Regions from separate parts of the Homo sapiens genome. Here regions 1 and 3 are each reported to be linked to region 2. The links are microRNA targets in miRTarBase. Many come from high-throughput screens and were not tested one by one. Region 2 holds a microRNA gene; each other region holds the end of a gene's coding sequence.

What was found. Region 2 holds the annotated microRNA hsa-miR-6837-5p (ACCAGGGCCAGCAGGGAAUGU, at 2,323-2,343, shown strand). A microRNA usually pairs through its seed, bases 2 to 8, with sites in the 3' UTR of a target mRNA and lowers its output. Matches are read on the target gene's strand: a 7mer-m8 pairs with bases 2 to 8, a 7mer-A1 pairs with bases 2 to 7 and ends in A, and an 8mer does both.
Region 1: miRTarBase lists CTNNBIP1 as a target of hsa-miR-6837-5p. Seed matches in the 3' UTR shown: 7mer-A1 at 2,545-2,551, 7mer-A1 at 2,236-2,242, 8mer at 756-763 and 7mer-m8 at 633-639.
Region 3: miRTarBase lists TMX2 as a target of hsa-miR-6837-5p. Seed matches in the 3' UTR shown: 7mer-A1 at 2,144-2,150.

What each region holds. Positions count from the first base shown.
Region 1 is chr1:9,848,148-9,851,147 of GRCh38, forward strand. It overlaps CTNNBIP1 (catenin beta interacting protein 1), which reads right to left. Exons shown (of 6, transcript NM_020248.3): 6 at 129-2,629. The coding sequence ends at 2,571. CTNNBIP1-AS1 (CTNNBIP1 antisense RNA 1) reads left to right here and starts at 171. Exons shown (of 3, transcript NR_199045.1): 1 at 171-319; 2 at 1,222-1,327; 3 at 1,839-2,007. LOC105376717 (a long non-coding RNA gene) reads left to right here and starts at 2,518. Exons shown (of 2, transcript XR_946952.3): 1 at 2,518-2,897. RefSeq lists enhancers at 170-671, 1,806-1,945, 2,026-2,075.
Region 2 is chr7:44,049,449-44,053,485 of GRCh38, forward strand. MIR6837 (microRNA 6837) reads left to right here and starts at 2,318; the gene lies at 2,318-2,381. It overlaps DBNL (drebrin like), which reads left to right. Exons shown (of 13, transcript NM_001014436.3): 2 at 777-832; 3 at 2,382-2,494; 4 at 3,419-3,493.
Region 3 is chr11:57,740,039-57,743,038 of GRCh38, reverse strand. TMX2 (thioredoxin related transmembrane protein 2) reads right to left here. Exons shown (of 8, transcript NM_015959.4): 8 at 2,066-2,940. The coding sequence ends at 2,794. SELENOH (selenoprotein H) reads right to left here and starts at 1,548. Exons shown (of 4, transcript NM_170746.4): 1 at 1,322-1,548; 2 at 1,085-1,230; 3 at 792-922; 4 at 1-176. The coding sequence starts at 1,443. The coding sequence ends at 822. All of the region lies in intron 2 of TMX2-CTNND1 (TMX2-CTNND1 readthrough (NMD candidate)), which reads right to left. RefSeq lists enhancers at 1,037-1,206, 1,357-1,406, 1,727-1,846.

The DNA.
Region 1 (3,000 bases), not on the chromosome of region 2:
TGGTGTTGTCCTTCCTGGCTGCGCCTCCCTGGGAAGGAGGGGCCCCCGCAGCAGCAGAGCCCACGTGATGTGGGGAAATCAGTCAGAGCGCCTGATTCCGAGGGAGAAACCAGCTCAGCTCACACACGAACCTATGAAAATTCTTTATTGTTAATTTCTTTCTCCAACAGATATATTTTTAGTTGAAATATGGAGCCACAGCAACACTTTGACTTTTCCTCTTCAGAAGATGAGACAGGCCGGGGTCATCATTGTTACAAAAGCAAGGCCTGTGATCGTGACAAGGACAGGCTGGGGCAGAGACCACACACTCAACCAGGTATCCACCAGGTGTGGGCCCTTTATAGGAGCTACAAAGAGGGGGCAGCCAGCAATGTGGCCTCGACACCTGACTCCAGGCACTCCGACCTGGAGGAGGGAGATGAAAGAACTCACCTTTCCCCAGGGGCTCAGCCAGACCTCCAGGCCCCTGAGCGGGGAGAGTGCGTGTGTGTGCACATGTGTATGAGTGTGCACACGGGTGTGCTCACTCACACAGCACATGCACACATGCGCTGCCCCTCCTGAGATGCTCTCAGGTCCCTGCCAGGGTAGGGTTGTAGCTGTGTTCCCCACAGCTGACTGTCAGCTAACCAGGGCTAGGGGTGAGTGCATGGTGGAGGACACAGGGTCTTAGCCTGATGCTCGAATCCTCCTTCTGGAACAGGCTGATGGTGCCAGAGCACAGCACGAACCACCTACCCACCATGGGGCTCTCCAGGGCTCGGTCATTTGGCTCCTGTGCACTTCATGACACTCAGGAGCCCCTACGGCCCGAGCCCCAAGCCCCGAGAAAGGGGAAAGATTTGGTTCTGAGAGGGTCCCACTGGCCCTGGGCACCTAGGGGCCTCAGCATCTACCAGCATAGGGGAGGGTGGCGGCCCCCTTCCTGAGGACTGCATCTTTCTCCAGCCGCTCTCCCCAGATCCCACACCTGCCAGTGAGCCAGGGAGATAGGAGGACCACCTCCCTCCCAGGGAAGGGGGTGGCAGGTGGAAGGACTTAGGTTTGGTGCAGGAACACTAGACCTGCCCCTCACCCCCTGCCTCCAGGACTGCCATTCTGAACTGCAATTCTGGGCCTGAGTTTGGCTTAAGGGCCAGTCTGAAGGGACTTGCTTGGTGAAGGCCCAGCCAGCTGTCCCAGTGGCATTTCATAAACAAACGATACTGTCCCTTCCAGGCTGACCTGGAGAGAGACCCTTCCAAAGGCAGTGGAGTGGAGGGCATGGGCCTCCGATGAGAGAACTCCAGAGCTGGCCGGGACCTACTGTGCTGGCAGCAGACAGGTAGGAGCCTGGCTGGGGTAGGTCAGGGGTTGGTGTTTAGCTGGAGGTCTCCTGGGCCTTGTGAGCCAAGCTGGGGCTTTTATGTGGGTTCTGGGCTCCCAGAGACCTCCGCCAGATGACCTCCAGAGTCTTTGGGGTCTCACACTGGGAGAAGCTCCTCCCCTTTCCAAGATGACCCCCAAAATGAGGCCTCAGGAAGTGGTACACAGAAGGATGGCCAAGAGGACAGAGCTGGGTAGTACGCCTCTGCTGGGCGCGGCCTGGCCGGTGGGGCCTGGACGGTGCCTCAGCAATCCCTTTCTCACCAAGGGACGCTGGCTGGTTGCCAGCTCATGCAGGCAGTGCACATAAATCCCGCCTAACGGTTACCTCTAGGCCCTGGGCTGCTCGTTCAAGACGACACAAAGCTCCTCAGGGGCCCAACTTTCCAGCTGTGGACCCTGCTCAGGGTTCTCGGGGTCCCCTTGCTGGTGGAGGCAGGTGCACTCATTAAAGCAAATGTACTCTCCAGGTGGACCCTCAGGCCCAGAGCCGGCAGCAGAGGGGGGTGAATCCATGGCAACAGGAGTCACAGGTGAACCAATGGGAAACCAAACACACGCATCGAAAGCCAATCAAACACAAACCCCAAATGTGAAGGCAGCAGCAAGTTCTTTGTGTAATAAATATTGCAAAGCGCACTTGGTTTCTTTCTTTTCAAGTCAAATATAACGACTAATGTCCCAGACCCTGTTTTCTGCATTCAAAATAGGGAAGCTGTTGATATCAGCAGAACACCTGCAGCCAAAGAAAAAAACCGTTTCCCATTAACCAGCCAATCACAGATCCTTTCCAGTTTAAGCAGCCAATCAGACCTCTTCACATTTCTAAAAAAATGACCTAACTAAAGCACCAGAGCTCGGAGAGCTTCCAGGGAAGCCAGATACCGAGGCGCAAATTTTTTAAAAAATAAGAGTCAGAAATAAAAATAAAAGGTTTCTGTTGGTCAAGATTTAAAAAATAAAAAAGTTTCTTCCTGCAGCCAATCACAAGTCCATCCCTTTAAGCCAATTATAAACGCACCACTGGTGTCTCCCTTGATGCCAGCCCCACTGAGTAGCTGTGAGGTGGGGTGGGGCAGGGCAGGGTTGGGTAGGGGAAGGGGGAGGTGGGGCAAGGGGGGCTGCTGCCACTCAGCCGGCCCAGGAGCCACACAGATCTCTTGGCCCTCAACAGCATCCAGGGTGTTCCAAGGGCTTTGCAGCTACTGCCTCCGGTCTTCCGTCTCCGACCTGGAAAACGCCATCACCACGTCCTCTGCACCTGCAGATAAGGCGACAAGGATCGCTGATGGGGCTTGCAGCATTGGCTTGCGAACAGGACAAGCAAGGAGGCTGCGGCCAAGCTGGAGCCCCCGCCCACCAGGATCGCGGCACTCTCTGAGGACAAAGTACTTCCGAGGAAGTCTTCCTCCCCTCTGGTCTTCCCTGCCTCCTGGCTGGGGACAAGGCTTGCAACCCTGCTGTAGGGCTGCAAGGCAGGGCTGCCAGGGTGAGGCTCAGAGGCTTGCTCAAGGCTACACAGCTGACAGGTGAGCCATGACGAGGCCCCAGGTGACCTGGAGCAGGGCTCAGCGCTGCTCACAGCCCTTGCTCCAGAGTTACCAAAGCCAGAGGCGGGGTGGCCCTTGGGAA
Region 2 (4,037 bases):
ACTGCGCCCAGCCCAAAGTTCTTATGAATAATTAATCTTTCAGGAAAAGAAAGCCATGGCCCCATGTCACCCATGGAGAGATAAGGCTCTGCTAGATAGAAAACTTGCTCATGGGTACCTGTCCGTGAGGGGCTTGGCAGGTTCATGGCTTTAACTGTGTGATTTCATGTCGTGTCATTCCTTTGTGGTTTCTGATAAACACAACCTGTGGTAGTCTGTGTTTACCAAAGAGTCTCAAGCCTGGAAGGACCTGCTGCCCTACCCACCAGGCTTCACTGGAGCCAGGGCAGACGTGCACAGGAGTGGTGGGCAGCCTTCCAAGGGGCCCAGTGTGTGTATTTCTCCGACTTGCTTCTCCTTTTGGGTGCTCTGGGTTCAGGAATATGTAGATATGTTTTGTCTCTTCAAATCCATATACCTAGTGGCCAGGTGAGTATTTGACACATGAATGTATAGCAGTCATTGGGAAACTCCACAGCTCATGTTTTCCTCATAGTAGATGTGTGCTCCCATCTCCATGGCTTTGTCCCTCACAACCCCCACCCCATGGTAAGTCAGGCCAGTGTCCTCCCAGCTGCAGAGCTGAGAAGGCTGCACAGTTGCCTACTGAGAACCTGCCTAGTGGGTCAGAGCAAAGTGAGAACGGGCCTGTGCCCACCCACAGTGTTACTGTCAGCCCAAGCTCTTTGGGATGTAGTGGAAAGTCATGGTGGATACGGTGAGGAGAGATGGAACCCAAGGTGCTGGCTACAGAGCTCACTTGTGTTTCGTTTCAGGGCTCTCTTTACCTATGAAGGCAACAGCAATGACATCCGCGTGGCTGGCACAGGGGGTGAGTATGACTCCAAATGGACTCAGGGACACCAGGAGGTAGGAGGGTGACGACGAGGGGTCAGCGCACTCAGCTGTCTTGGTCCACTGAGCCACATGGGGCTTCCAGTGCTCACTGGCCACTTCTGGCAGGCCTTAGGTTTCAGATATGTGTAAGTGAAAACATTCCTCCTTGGTTCTCCTTCCCTCTGGGTGCAGGGGAGTGCTTTCTCTTTGTCTACTTGGGGAGAGCTGAGAGGGAAACAGGCCTCTCCAGCTTGTGGGCAGCCTGCGTTGGGAGCTGCGGTGGGAAGCTCACCAGTCCCAGAACTGGTGCTGGTGGAAAGAAAGTCCACAGACATATCTTCTTCTCCCTTTGTCCTGCCCTGGTCTTGTGCCGAGTGCTTGCAGGGGCCCCATCCTCACTGGGAGAGGCAGTATCACTGCAGATAGTCACGGGGGAGGCTCTGGAGGTCTCTACAGGAAGGACAGGCTCTTGGCCAGCACAGAGCAGAGGTTGTCAGGGTAGGCTTCGTCAGAGTGTGACCTGTGGGCCCCTCAGCTGACACCCGTGACTGCTCCTCCTCCAGAAGTTGCCTGACCCCTCCCTCTGTCCTGAGCTGGACATGGCTTCATTGTTCAATGAACACTCGGAGTGGTTCTCCACGGTTTGATGTCTGTTGTTGGTAGAAAGCCCCTTCCTTTCACAATCTTTCTGGGAGGTGTCCCCTTTCTAGAAGGATTGCCATTGAACAGTAGACATGTGGTGTGGCAGGTGACTGGGAGTTGCAGAGATCAACAACTTGAGAGTTTCCTGTCATCCCCAGTGGCACAGGACAGGGCTCTGCCACAAATGCAACAATTTGCTGTCCCCAGAGTGGGGCTCATGACTGCCTCCACTCATACGGAGCCCTGTAGATGAAATACCTGATCAGCTCTTCCTCCTTATAACCTGGAAAAGTTTGTGAGGGCTAAGCCTCAGTGTCAGGGAGAATTGTTTAGAGCTGCCCACTCCTGTGCTCCCCCTGTCCCCATCACCCTCTCTTCTGGAGTCTGAGGACTGAGCCAGTTACGCCACTGCAGGATGTTCAATCTGGTCTGGCCGTCTGGGTGGCCCTGGAACTTGAGCAGACACAGGTGCAGGCAGTGGTGACTCTACAGGCCCTGCTATTCCGGGCCCTTTTGCAACGTTGTGGCAACAATAAAATTTTGACGTAGCCATCCTCCATTTGGAAGTCTGGTGGCTGGTTTGCCGTGGAAATGACCCTGTTTTTATTTCCAGAATTACCTCTGGGTTTAGAGAAGTGGTTTTTAAACGAGTGTGGGTAAAAAAAATTACCTGAGGTACTTGTCAGAATCGCAGACTTCTAGGTCCCACCCAGCTCTCATCAATCAGTTTAGTGAGGGTGGTGCCCAGGACTCTGATTTTAAACATACCCCTAGAAAGATTCTGATACAGGTAGAGGTGAGAAGCCCTGGTTTAGAAGCAGCTCGGCCTCCCTTCATGGTGGGACCAGGGCCAGCAGGGAATGTCAGGGCCACCCCTGACCTTCACTGTGACTCTGCTGCAGAGGGTGGCCTGGAGGAGATGGTGGAGGAGCTCAACAGCGGGAAGGTGATGTACGCCTTCTGCAGAGTGAAGGACCCCAACTCTGGACTGCCCAAATTTGTCCTCATCAACTGGGTATGTGGAGCCTGTTTCATCTAGGTGTGACCCAGGAAACCCCATTGTCTTCTTTCCTGTTTTGACTTGACTTCAGGAACAAAGTGTTTTACTGGCATGACTTAGTAGATCAATAGAACAGCTCTGAGCTGGTGAATGAGCAGAATAGTTGACAGATTCATTGTGGCCCAAAGAATAACTGTGGCTTTGCTATGCAGAATTCACCTTCCAAGCCTAGAGTTCTTCCTGCAAAATGGATTAAAAGCAGTCACAGGGAGTCCTTGCTCCGTGCTCTTGAGGGTGGTTGTTCTGATGGAGTAGAGAGCCTGAGGGAGTGTTTAGGAGCCTGGGAGTACAGGGACAGGGCCTCCTTGATCCCTTGGTGGGGATCAAGAAAACTCTTGAAGGCTGGGTGGGGTGGCTCACACCTGTCATCCTAGAACTTTGGGAGGCCGAGGTGGGTGGACTGCCTGAGCTCAGGAGTTTGAGACCAGCCTGGGCAACATGGTGAAACCCCATCTCTACTAAAATACAAAAAATTAGCTGGGCATGGCAGCGTGCACCTGTAGTCCCAGCTACTCAGGAGGCTGAGGCAAGAGAATTGCTTGAACCCAGGAGGCAGAAGTTGCAGTGAGCCAAGATTGCGCCACTGTACTCCAGCCTGGGCCACAGAGCAAGACTCCATCTCCAAAAAAAAAAAAAAAAAGAAAATTCATGAAATGCCCCCACAGCGAAAGCCGGTAGCCATCCTGCCCAGGGAGAATCCATGAGCCCCTTGGAGGCATGGGAACTTACCTCACCCATGTGATGCAGTCAGAAGAATAGGTTCTGCTTTGGGGGTTGCAGTTTTCTCTTTTCTGGGACACAGGGTAGATGTTGGGTCCCCAGGGAAGGGAAGTGGCTTTGGGGGAGGCCTGGGTCAACCTGGGCATCCTTGTGTTGCAGACAGGCGAGGGCGTGAACGATGTGCGGAAGGGAGCCTGTGCCAGCCACGTCAGCACCATGGCCAGCTTCCTGAAGGTAAGGCCAGGTGAGGCCCGCTTCACTGGGAACAGGCCTCACAGGCTTGAGGTCTCGCAGGTTCCTGGGTGCGAGCAAGTGGGAATCAGAACTGGAGTTGGGAGTGTGCTCATAGCTAATGCTCTCTGCCTGCCTTTGAGGGCATGACCAGAGGCTGCTTCACTCTCGGTCAGTGAGTGCATGGGAGGTCAGGATGTTGCCAGGGCCACCTACAGGCCTGCCTCAGTGGGGCAGGATAAAGGACTATGCTGGAGCTGGTGCCGTGAGAAGGGTGGGCCCTGGTTCTGTTTTGTTTTATGATCCCTCTAAACAGTTTAGTAATACCGTCAGGATTTGGAGGAAGGGGAGAGTGCCCACCATCTTAGCACGCATGTGCCCTTTTGATGCATTCCTTTCCAGCCCCCTCTACATGGAGTTATGTCAGTCCTATAATAGAACCTTTTTAAATTTTAAAAACTATTTGTAACAAAAGCATTTGTTGGTCACTTGTCAGGTAACTTTTTGCATTTCTCTGGCAAAGGAGACTCAGAATTTTGATTTCTCG
Region 3 (3,000 bases), not on the chromosome of region 2:
TACTTTATTTCAACTTTTATTAAACCAAATCCAGTAACTTTTACAATGCCTTACTAGAGGGTTGCCTCATAACTGAACCTTCATTTCTGGCAGGGAAGAAACCATGGCTTCAGGATCATGACTGAAGTTTGGCCATGTTCCATCATTAATGTTCCAACATCACCAGGGACACAAAGCTGCAAAAATGAGAAGGGAAATAAGGTTAGAGAAAGGATCTGGGCAATCTTAAGGACTGAGGAAGACATGTTCCCCAACCCTTGAACTCACAAACCCTGAAGCTCAAGGATTGCATCCTTCCTCCAAATCTCACTCAACATAATAAGTGCAGAACAACATGCCAAAGCACTGTATGAAGCACTAGGGACAAAGACAAGGTCAAAATCCTTGTAACCAAATTTAATGGTATTGTAATGCAGTGTTAACACAGGACAGTAACAGAACACCCAAGAACCAAACAGAAGAGGGTAGGGATAAGCATAAATGAAGTAACATGAAATAAACTTCCAAATGGAAAACTTGTCCATACCCCCAGGGCAAGTCAACTACAGTCTCCCAAAGGACATAAATTCCACTTAGGGCACACTAGACAGAAAACAATATTGTGTCTTTTTTTTGTTTTTTGTTTTCAAATAGGGTCTCCCTGTGTTGGCCATCCACTCCTGCCTCGACCTCCCAGAGTGCTGGGATTGCAGGCGTGAGCTACCCACGCCAGGTGGGTACTTGTAGCCACACCAAGATCAATGCCTTCTCTTCCTCAACAGCGGTCGCGCCCCCCACTTCCCATTTCAAACCTCAGCATGAGGGCTTCTACCCAAATCTCCCTACGACAGGTACTTCTTCAACTCTTCCACCACCTCTTGAGGCTCAGGGAATTTGAGTTTGCGTGGGGGCCCCTTCTTAATCCCAGTCCAGAGCTCCGCACCTGAAAGGCCAGAATGAAGCGAAGTTACAATACTTCGGAACCCACGAGCACGTCTCTGAAGTCATGAGACTGCCGTGGTTTCTAAGAATAGCGCTTCCTGTCTTCGGAACCCACGTCCCTTTCACCCACGTCCCTCTCCCCCACATCCAGGTCCCCACTTACTGCTGCCGTCCGGGCGCAGCAGCGTCACCTCGAAGCTGCCCCTCCGGGGCTTCGTCGGGTTCACCTTTACTGGAAGCTCTGGGGCCTCCAGGCGCAGCGCCTGGCTCAGGGCCGCGGCGTTGCGCCCATAGACGCGTCAGCTAGTGCTAGGGAGAGACGGAGAGGTTAGAAACCGGGGCCCCTGGCCCCCCCCGGCGCCACTGTTCCCTCTCTCCCGTTACTCTCCAGGCCCCTCACCAATGCTCGATAACAACGGTCGCCTCCTCCATTCCCTCCCCGCCGTTCGCCAGCTTCTCTCGCTTCTCGGCTACGGCGACCACCGCGGCCTCAGCCTTACGCTTCCTCCCGCGGGGAGCCATGGCGCCTAGAGCCCGGCCGAGAATGCAGCGGGACTGGTGGGTGGGGGGCGGAGACGCGACCACTGAGCGGAAACTGGGCAACGAAGAGCGCAGCCCGGAAGCTCTGCTCCTACAGCGGAAACCTCTCTCAAAGGAAGGGAAAGCTTGGCCCGCAGCACCCACGTGGCCTGGAGGCGGACCTTGGGGCACAACCACTTTGCAAGCAGGGAGCGGGAAGGTGCGGGAAGCGCCTGACGGAACCACCCATCGCTTCGGGTGGAGGGGACAGGGGACGCTGGGATGGTGAACACAGCAGGAAGGGGCGGAGACTAGGTCCGACTGCTAGCCTCGCTTCGCGCAATCTTTTCTGTACCTTTGCATGGCGCTAAATGTTGTGTGCCACCATCTGCCGCCAAACTCTCCTCCCTGGCAACCGCAGGCCAATCCCAGAGTAAACCCACCACCTAACAACATGTGGCCGCTATTCTAGATTTATGGAAACTAGACTTCTCCAACTCTTGCCAGTCCTGGGGATCAATGCCCGGCATTTGGTGAAACCAAATAGGATGGCCTTTGCCCTTAAGATGGGCAATTCCTCTGCAGTTGTCAGGCTTTTCTAATACAGAAACACACAAACGCGCAATCAAAAGGAAATCCCAATCTTTTTATTACGGAAAGCCATCAACTGGGTGTGGGGAGTATGTCAGAGGGTTAGTGAAAGTCCAGGGGATTTCTCCTCCAAGTCCTACCACACAAAGGAAAGTCTCAAGCCTCTATTCACCCCTTCTCAATCCCCACAAAATAGGGGGTTGTTCAATATTGTCTTCAATGATAAAAACTTTGTGGTTAAAGGTTTCTCCTTAGGACTAGCGACAAAGTTAGGCTTATACTTTTAATGAAGACCATAAACGAAGCCAGAAGGGCTTAAGGAAGCAAGAGTCCTTGGGGGAAAATTCTTAGCGTTCTATACCCCAGCATCTTACCTTAGGGTTAAATCTAGGTCTAACCAAGCTGTGCAGGTCAACTAAGAAGGAATGATGAAACCACAGAGTTTCATGGAGAAACCATGGAGATGTCTGAATAGCTGATAAGCAGTTAACACACTGACCCAAGCTTGGAGGGAAACCATTTCCCCCTCCGTCCTATGAGATCTCTTTCTTGCTCCAGTGAAACAGTTGGCCACAGCATGGCAGGCCTTCCTGTAGGGTGCCTGACAATTCCCTAGATGCCTCTTTAAAATCAGAAGCTGCATGCTGCCCCACCCAGTCACAGCCAAAGGGAAAACATAAATAAAAGGCTGCAGCCTCAGGCTTGTGGTTATGGAAAGAGCCTGGAATTGACAGGAGAGGAAGCACTGCCAAAGTGAGGATCTTATTTATCCTTCTTGTTTTCCCCATCTGACACTGTGGTGGGGGTTGAAGCCACAGGCTGCTCCTCAGGGATATTGTCTCCAGCCTTTGATAGTTTCTTGGCCCGCTGGTATAGCTCATTTAAGTTAAATTCTCGGATCACATTCTCCTGCACAAAAGAGATGCACACGTCAGGATCTGGGTTGGAAGGGAGAGTAAAGAGCCTGGG